Regions from separate parts of the Homo sapiens genome. Here region 1 is linked to region 2. The links come from fine-mapping of genetic effects on plasma protein levels. A gene starts in region 2. The other region holds a variant in brackets. All regions are shown on one strand. Distances are from middle to middle.

The links. A credible set is the group of variants that fine-mapping cannot tell apart. PIP is the posterior inclusion probability: the model's chance that the variant is causal. The UK Biobank Pharma Proteomics Project read protein levels with antibody pairs (Olink). The fine-mapping took linkage between variants from a reference panel, not from the people measured, so its PIPs are less certain.
Region 1: its variant is the best candidate, but not a certain one, in a credible set for the plasma level of the CDHR2 protein (UK Biobank, PIP 0.72).

Annotation. Positions count from the first base shown.
Region 1 is chr5:176,574,678-176,579,059 of GRCh38, forward strand. CDHR2 (cadherin related family member 2) reads left to right here. Exons shown (of 32, transcript NM_017675.6): 8 at 407-532; 9 at 603-749; 10 at 829-904; 11 at 1,047-1,162; 12 at 1,275-1,508; 13 at 2,722-2,877; 14 at 2,960-3,121; 15 at 3,357-3,418; 16 at 3,688-3,931. Among named protein-coding and RNA genes, the nearest start is that of CDHR2, 28 kb to the left of the region's middle. RefSeq lists a silencer at 3,751-4,045. The variant C/T (reference allele first, on the strand shown) is at 1,776.
Region 2 is chr5:176,545,147-176,549,499 of GRCh38, forward strand. It overlaps CDHR2 (cadherin related family member 2), which reads left to right and starts at 4,196. Exons shown (of 32, transcript NM_017675.6): 1 at 4,196-4,268. It also overlaps the pseudogene RN7SL684P.

The sequences.
Region 1 (4,382 bases), 30 kb after region 2:
CTCCAATACCAATGCAATGCAAATACTATGTAACTATAGCATGTTATGCTATATTGTTTAGGGAATCATGGCAAGGGAAAAAGTTTGTACACCTTCAGTACAGACGCAACCATTGTGAGTGAGCCTAGCTACAGTTTTGATCTGTGCTGGTCAAATCTGTGGATGTGGAAGCCACAGAGATGGAGGGCCGACTGCATCTTATTGGATCCTCCTTTCAACCCACTGAGGGTTGTCACCAGCCCCATTTCCTGGAGCTGGAAACTGAGGCTCAGAGAGGTCATATGACCTGGTGCCAGTGGCGTGACTGGTCAGTGGCAGAGCTGGGACCTTCCCTGCGTTGCTCAGAGTGGGGTCCTCGGTGCAGGGCTGTCCCTAGGGAGCCTGACCCAAGTCTGCTCTGCCCCAGGTCATCCCTAGCACTGGGGACAGCGAGCATCTCTTCCGGATCCTGGCCAATGGCTCCATAGTCCTCAATGGCAGCCTCAGCTACAACAACAAGAGCGCTTTCTACCAGCTGGAGCTGAAGGCCTGTGTGAGTGGGGGTGCCGGCAGGCGGGCCTAGGACCCACGGCGCTGGCTCACGGGTGGCCATCTCCCCGCAGGACTTGGGCGGCATGTACCACAACACCTTCACCATCCAGTGCTCCCTGCCTGTCTTCCTGTCCATCTCCGTGGTGGACCAGCCTGACCTTGACCCCCAGTTTGTCAGGGAGTTTTACTCGGCCTCTGTGGCTGAGGATGCAGCCAAGGTGCACGGGGGACCTGTGGGGTGTGGGTGGAGGCGGGAGGCGGGGAAGTTTGAGGAGCACTGACCAGGCCCCATTCCAGGGAACCTCGGTGCTGACGGTGGAGGCTGTGGATGGCGACAAAGGCATCAATGACCCTGTGATCTACAGCATCTCCTGTGAGAACGGGGTGTCCCCAGGCCAGGGCTGGGCCGGGGCCAGGGTGGGGTCTCCGTCAGAGTCCCTGGAGGCAATGGGCCTGGGGCTCCGTCAGAGCCACTGGAGCAGCTGTTCCAGCTGTTCCGCCTTTCTCCTTGCCAGACTCCACGCGGCCCGGCTGGTTTGACATCGGGGCAGATGGGGTGATCAGGGTCAACGGCTCCCTGGACCGTGAGCAGCTGCTGGAGGCGGATGAGGAGGTGCAGCTGCAGGTCACGGTGAGCAAAGGCCCCACCACCCCTGTCAGAACCCTGCTCTCTAACCTCTGGCCTTTGATCTCTCTCTCTGAGCACTGGCTCTCTGCCCTCTGCCCTCTGCTCTGTGCCTCAGGCCACCGAGACACACCTCAACATCTACGGGCAGGAGGCCAAGGTGAGCATCTGGGTGACAGTGAGAGTGATGGACGTCAATGACCACAAACCTGAGTTTTACAACTGCAGCCTCCCAGCCTGCACCTTCACCCCCGAAGAGGCCCAAGTGAACTTCACTGGCTACGTGGACGAGCATGCCTCCCCCCGCATCCCCATCGATGACCTCACCATGGTGGTCTACGACCCGGACAAGGCAGGCGTGGTGGCGTGGGTGTGGGCGGGGGTGGCTGGGGGAGGCCAGTGGGAGCCTGGATCGAGTGACGGTGTCATGTGGTGCTGGGTGGCGGTGCTGGTGGTGCAGGGTGTGATGGCGGAGAATGGGGGTGCTGGGTGCTCTCTGGAAGCCTGTGTTGGTAAGCAGTATCATCCTCTGGGCGATCCGTGTGGGGCTGAATAGAAGGCCATGCTGAGTGGAGGCTGACGTAGAACGTCAGATGATGCTGAGTAGAACATCATTGTC[C/T]GTGGTGATGGGTGGCTGGCGAGGTCTCCTGGCATTGGGCGGCCATGATTTGGGTAGTCCTGGGAACTGGGGGAGGCTGAGCAGTGTTGGGACAAGTGGTCTGAGGGTGTGAGGTGGGAGGGTGCTCTTTTTTTTTTTTTTTGAGATGGAATTTCGCTCTGTCACCCAGGCTGGAGTGCAATGGCCCAATCTTGGCCCACTGCAACCTCTGCCTCCCAGGTGGAAGGGATTCTCCTGCCTCAGCCTCCCAAGTAGCTGTGATTACAGGTGTGCACCACCTCGCCCAGCTAATTTTTGTGTTTTTAGTAGAGATGGAGTTTCACCATGTTGGCCAGGTTGGTCTTGAACTCCTGACCTCAAGTGATCCACCTACCTTGGCCTCCCAAAGTGCTGGGATTGCAGGCGTGAGCCACCGCGCCCAGCCATGGGAGGCACTCTTAAGTGGAGGCTGCAGTGAGAGGTGGGTAACACGGTGGCGCTGGAGGATGAGTAACTCTGGAGGGTGTATGGTGTTAGGTGATACTGAGGGGTTGGAAATGTTGCGTGGAGGACAGTGTCGGGTGGGGTTAGGTTGGCCAGAAGGGTGGCACTGGCCAGTGGGGTGACGTAGGGTGTGAGTGGTGTTTGGTGTTGCTGTGGGGGCTGGGGGTGGGGGATGTGAAGGGTGGGTGGGAGGGACAGCTGACAGGAGTGAGGGGTGTGTGTCCAGGCTCCAGCCCAGGTCTGGGACCCACAGTGCCTAGGGAGCTGTCTTCTACAGAGCCTGCATTTGCAGGGACTGGTGACCAGCCCAGCCTCCTGCACCCTCTCTCGCAGTCTTTTGAGAGCCCCCTTCCATGGGACCTCATCGGGCGGGGCATCCAGAGATAGAAGCCTGGGGACTGGGGGAAGATGCAGGTGGGCAGAGCAGGGGGACAGGTCCCTGCTAGACAGCCCACCTTTACAGGGCAGCAATGGCACCTTCCTGTTGTCGCTGGGGGGCCCCGATGCAGAAGCCTTCAGCGTCTCCCCGGAGCGGGCAGTGGGCTCAGCCTCCGTTCAGGTGCTGGTGAGAGTATCCGCGCTGGTGGACTACGAGAGGCAGACGGCGATGGCGGTGCAGGTGAGGGCTGCTCCGGGGTGCCAGGGGCAGAAGCCGAGGGGCACTTGGGCCCCACAGCTGCTGCCTCCTCCCCTGCCCCCAGGTTGTGGCCACAGACTCCGTCAGCCAGAACTTCTCCGTCGCCATGGTGACCATCCACCTTAGAGACATTAATGACCACAGGCCCACGTTTCCCCAGAGCTTGTACGTCCTCACGGTGCCAGAGCACAGCGCCACCGGCTCTGTGGTCACCGACAGCATCCACGTGAGTGATGTGGACACAGTGGGGCTGTGGGGTCCCAGCAAGCGGGCGTGCATGTGTGAGTGTGAGAGTGTGTGTGTGTGTATGTGTGAGATGGGGGTGGCCATGAGTGAATCTGAGTGTGCTGGGGATTCTCCCTTTGTGTGAGGAAGCACGACAGCTCTGTCCCCACGAGCTGCATGGGTGGCGGTGCGTGCATCGCCTCCACACAGCACCCTGCCATGTCTCTGCCTCACAGGCCACGGACCCAGACACGGGCGCGTGGGGCCAAATTACCTACAGCCTGCTCCCAGGAAATGGGTAAGGGCTCAGGGTGGGCCGTAGGCAGGTGGGTGAGCAGGGCCCAGGCCCACCTCTCTGCCTCTCTGCAGAGATAGAATAGCTGGGGAAGACCGAAGGCACTCAGTTACATTTCAATTTCAGATAAACAAGGAATGACTTTTTGAAATAATGAATATGTTGCATATACTGCATGGGATATGCTGAAATATTTGTTGTTGTATATCTGAAATTCACACTGAAATGGGCATCCTGTGTCTCTATTTGCTGAACCTGGCCCCTCTGAGCAGGGCAGACCTCTTCCAAGTGGATCCCGTCTCAGGGACGGTGACGGTGAGGAACGGTGAGCTGCTGGACCGGGAGAGCCAGGCCGTGTACTACCTGACGCTGCAGGCCACAGACGGCGGGAACCTGTCCTCCTCCACCACACTGCAGATCCACCTGCTGGACATCAACGACAATGCACCCGTGGTTAGCGGCTCCTACAACATCTTCGTCCAGGAGGAGGAGGGCAATGTCTCCGTGACCATCCAGGTGTGAGCCTGCCTGGACCTGGTGGGTAAGGCTGGGGGAGGGGACCAAGCCTGCTCTGTGGGCATGCTGGCCCTGGGTAAAGTCGGGGCTCCGCTGTGTGGCTCTGAGACAGTCACTCAGAGTCTCTGTTTCCTCCCAGGAAATGAAGAAAATTATAGCCTTACTCTCAGGGTCATTGGGGAATAATTTAATGACTTGTGTGAGGAGCTCAGCACTGGGCCTGCCAGAGAAATCCCTCAAAAACATACACTTCTTTTTTATTTACCCACCTGCCCCACTCCAAAAAGGACTTGAGGTGGCTTAGATAAATAGTAAGATAAAAATATGAAAGAAATAAGAAAAAAGAGAAAATAAAGGTGGCATTTGTTAAAGGGCACAAGGTAAAATTAGAACCCAGTGCTACAGAATTGCTTGGAGTGAGCTGCAAATTCTGATCTGAGCTTCATGGTGG
Region 2 (4,353 bases):
ACTCTGTCACCCAGGCAGGAGTGTAGTGGTGCAATCTCGGCTCACTGCAATCTCCCCCCACCCCACCTCCAGGTTCAAGCGATTCTTGTGCCTCAGCCTCCTGAGCAGCTGGCACTACAGGTGCACGCCACCACGCTGGGCTAAGTTTTGTATTTTTAGTAGAGATGGGGTTTCACCATGTTCTACGTTTCACCATGTTGGCCAGGCTGGTCTTGGACTCCTGGCCTGAAGTGATCTGCCTGCCTCAGTGTCCCAAAAGTGTTGGGATTACAGGCGTGAGCCACCGCACTCGGCCGAGAAGTTTTTCTGATTAAAAAAAATTTTAAGGCACACACTTCAGACAGTGGCTGTGAAGGAACCCTGATGTGTATCTAAACTGTCGCCTCGTGCACATCACCCCATTACTTACTCTGTGCTAAGTGCTGTCATGCATTACATCATTACTCCTTAGAACAGGCCTATGAGGTGGAGTCTGCATTAGGCCCATTTTGGACAAGGACACCAATAGTGTGGGAGGTGGTGTACCTTGCCCAAGCCCCCAGCAGGTAAGTGGTGGTGGGGATTAGGACCCAGGTCACTTGAGTCCATATCCTGGGCTCTTAGTCCCACTCTGCCTGGCTGCCTGCTGCTCCGTGAAGCCAACCCTGGACCTAGACCTGGACCTGGATCGTCATAGCCCAGATCCCTGTGTGCTTCCCAGGCTGCCTTGTGGCAGGTGGATGGTGCCCCTCGAGATGGGCAGGGCACCATCTGGCCACACGTGCCTCATCGTGATGGGTCCAAAGGTCTGGGCAGGCCAGGACACACCTCTGTCAACCAGAGCAGTGACTCAGAGCTGTCGGCCTCAGCCGTAAGGGCAGGGAGAGGGGGCAGGGGCTTGGGTTGGGGTCTGCCCTATTTGGGGCACAGCAGAGCGACCAGGCTGACTCCCATGGTCTGAGGCAGAGCGGGGAGCCTGGAGCCTTGGGTGGGGTCACCTGCCTCTCTTCTTACTGGTTAAGCCACCAGCGATGACTAGTGCCTACTTCCTTCAGAGAGGAATCTGACGGCTGTGGCAGGAAAGTCAGGGGCAAGAATTGTTGCACAGATATGCTAATATCTCAGTTCTGCCACTTTCTGTAATCTCGGGTGGTGATCTAATCTGTCTAAGGTCTATTTTCCCATCTGTAATGGGGAAAAAAATCATCCCTGGAGTTATTGGCAGGATTAAATGAGGTGATATTAGTAATGCAATAGTCACCACCATGCCCCCACGAAAACTAACATTCATTGAGACCTTATTGTGTTGGGCATTGTGCTCAGGACTTCAAATGGGTGACTTCATTACATCCTCACCATCACCTGCCCAGGTAGGCATCATGTATTACCTGCAACTTACAGATAAGGAAACCGTCTTAGAGAGGTTATGCAACTTGCCCTGCCAAAATTGAACCCATTGTGAATATACAGTAGATAAAAAAAATAATAAAAATAAAATGAAATTAAAAATTGTGGCTGGGCAGGGCGGCTCACACCTGTAATCCTAGTACTTTGGGAGGCCGACACGGGTGGGTCACCTGAGGTCAGGAGTTTGAAACCAGCCTGGCCAACATGGTGCTCAAAAAAAAAAAAAAAAAAAAAAAAAAATTGAACCCAGCAGTCTGACCCCAGAGGAGCCTGGTCTCTGGTCTCTTAACCCCTGCATTGTAATAGTCGCATCGAGCGCTACCCAGTGTCTGCAGCATCCTTTCCTCAGAAACACTTCTCAAAAAGAGGAAAAGCCTCTTGGGTATCAAAACTCAGAACTGCATCATAGCTCCCAGAGCCTGGCTATACGCAAAGTGGTCTTTTTGGTCTTTTTTTTTTTTTTTGAGATGGAGTCTTGCTCTGTCACCCAGGCTAGAGTGCAGTGGGACAATCTTGGCTCACTGCAACCTCTGCCTCCCGGGTTCAAGTGAATCTCCTGCCTCAGCCTCCTGAGTAGCTGAGATTACAGGCACCTGCCACCGTGCACAGCTATTTTTTGTATTTTTAGCAGAGACAGGGTTTTACCATTTTGGCCAGGCTGGTCTCGAATTCTTGACCTGGTGATCCACCCGCCTCAGCCTCCCAAAGTGCTGGGATTACAGGCGCGAGCCACCAGCCTATGCAAATGTTTTAAAATGGATGGATGCTGGACTCAATGGATCTCAATTCCCTTTTTTCTTTGCCTGGGGGGAAGCTCAGAACCTGATTCATGACCCATCTCTACAATTACCCAGAACTTGAAGGCAAATATATATATATATATAATTTGTTTATTTTTTGAGAGAGAAGCTCTTGTTGTCTAGGCTGGAGTGCAGTAGCTATTCATAGGCACAGTCTCACTACTGATCAGCACCTGAAGTTTGACCTGCTCTGTTTCTGACCTGGGCTGGTTCAGCCTTTCTGAGGCAACCTAGTGGTCCTCTGCTCCTTGGGGTTCACCATATTAGTGCTGAATTTAGTGTGGACACCCCATCAGCATAGTGCCCTACAGCACAGAAATCCTGGCCTCAAGCCATCCTACTGCTGCAGCCTCCCAAGTAGCTGGGACTACAGGTGCACAGCAGTGCCCCCAGCTCAAGACAAGTATTTTATGGCCTCAATTCAGGCGTAGATTACCCTTATTTTTCTCACTTGACTTCCCTTCATCTGGGTTTCTTCTTTTTATGCTGGTGGCGTATAAATTTTGTTACTATGTTTTACATTTGGAGAGTTGGGAAGCAAACTATTAAAATGCCTGACTATAGCAACTGCCTGATATACAGTCAACACAACCCTTAACAACGGGGACACCTTCTGGGAAATGTGTCATCAGGCAATTTCGTCATTGTGTGAACATCACACAGTGACTTACACAAACCTAGGCGGTACCACCTACTACACACCCAGTCTCTATACCACCGCCTGTGCTCCTGGGCTGCTAACCTATGCAGCCTGGGACTGTACCGCACGCTGCAGGCAACTGTAACACAGGGGTAAGTATTTGTGCATGTAAACACAGAAAGGGTGCCATGAAAGATGATATTATACTCTTATGGGACCGCTATTATATGTGTGGTTCGTTGTTGACCAAAACACAGATATATGGTGCATGACTATATATCTATTGTGAATTAGACATGTCCTCTGCCCACAAGAAGAGGGCCACCCAATGGTGACGACTCAGTGGTGTGCCTTAAGAAAGTTGTGCCCAGGGTCCCCTTTCTGTGTCAACTGTGATGGCTGGGCCAAAGTGAGGATAAGAAGGACTTGTGGCTGAGCCCCTTCGGGAGGCCACCACATCGGGCAGCGCTTAAAGCCAGCCTGGGGGCCGAGCTCCGTGGCTCATCCCTGTAATCCCAGCATTTTGGAAGGCCGAGGCAGGCGGATCGCCTGAGGTTAGGAGTTCGAGACCAGCCTGGCCAACATGGTGAAACCCTGTTTCTACTAAAAATACAAAAAAAATTAGCCGGGTGTGGAGGCCCACGCCTGTAATCCCAGTTACTCGAGAGGCTGAGGTAGGAGAATTGCTTGAACCCAGGAAGCAGAGATTGCAGTGAGCCAAGATTGTGCCACTTCACTCCAGCCTGGGTGACAGAGCAAGACTCTGACTCAAAAATAAATAAATAATTAAAAAAAAAAGGCAACTTGGGAGTGGATGAAGCCCCTGGGGACGGGCAGATGCCTTTTGAGGGTCTCAATGCGGGGTGAGATCAGTGTCAACAGGCTCGAAAGTGGGTTGTCCAGGCTCAGCTAGCCCCCAGTCCTCCACGAGAACCTCACAGGGGCTGGTCTGGCCACACAGTGTTTGATTGTTACACTGTTTTACCACTTCCCTCTCCTGACTCAATCCCCCACTTGTCCACAGATCCCCTGTCACTGAAGACTCGTAGCAGGGAGGGGACGGGGGCTCTGGCATCACCTTCTGACTGTCACCGTCCCCGCCTCCAGCCTGCCCCAGTGTTGGGCCTTGTTCCCAGGTCCTCTGGGCTCAGGGTCGGCCAGGCCCCTTCTCCTGTGGTGTGGGCCTCCAGCCCCAGGAGCGCCAGGAGCTCTGGCGCCTTGGTCCCTTCCTCCTGTCCGGCGCCCCCAGCTGTACTCTGCCTCATTAGGAGTCGACCCCTCCTGGGAGGTGTGGTCTCTGGCAGGGTTAATGATTGCTCAGTGGAGGTGGAGATGGTGCCAAAGTCTGCTGGCCACATAGCTGCAGGCCGCAGAGGGTGCCCACCTGTGTGCCAGCGCCTGTCCGGCGCCTGCCTGCCGCCTCCGTGGCGAAGGGGACACAGGTAGGGACTATCCAGCTCATCGGGGGTCTCTGGGCCAGAGAAATGTGGGGGTTGGGGGGATCCCTAGAGCCAAGGCAAGCTTGGG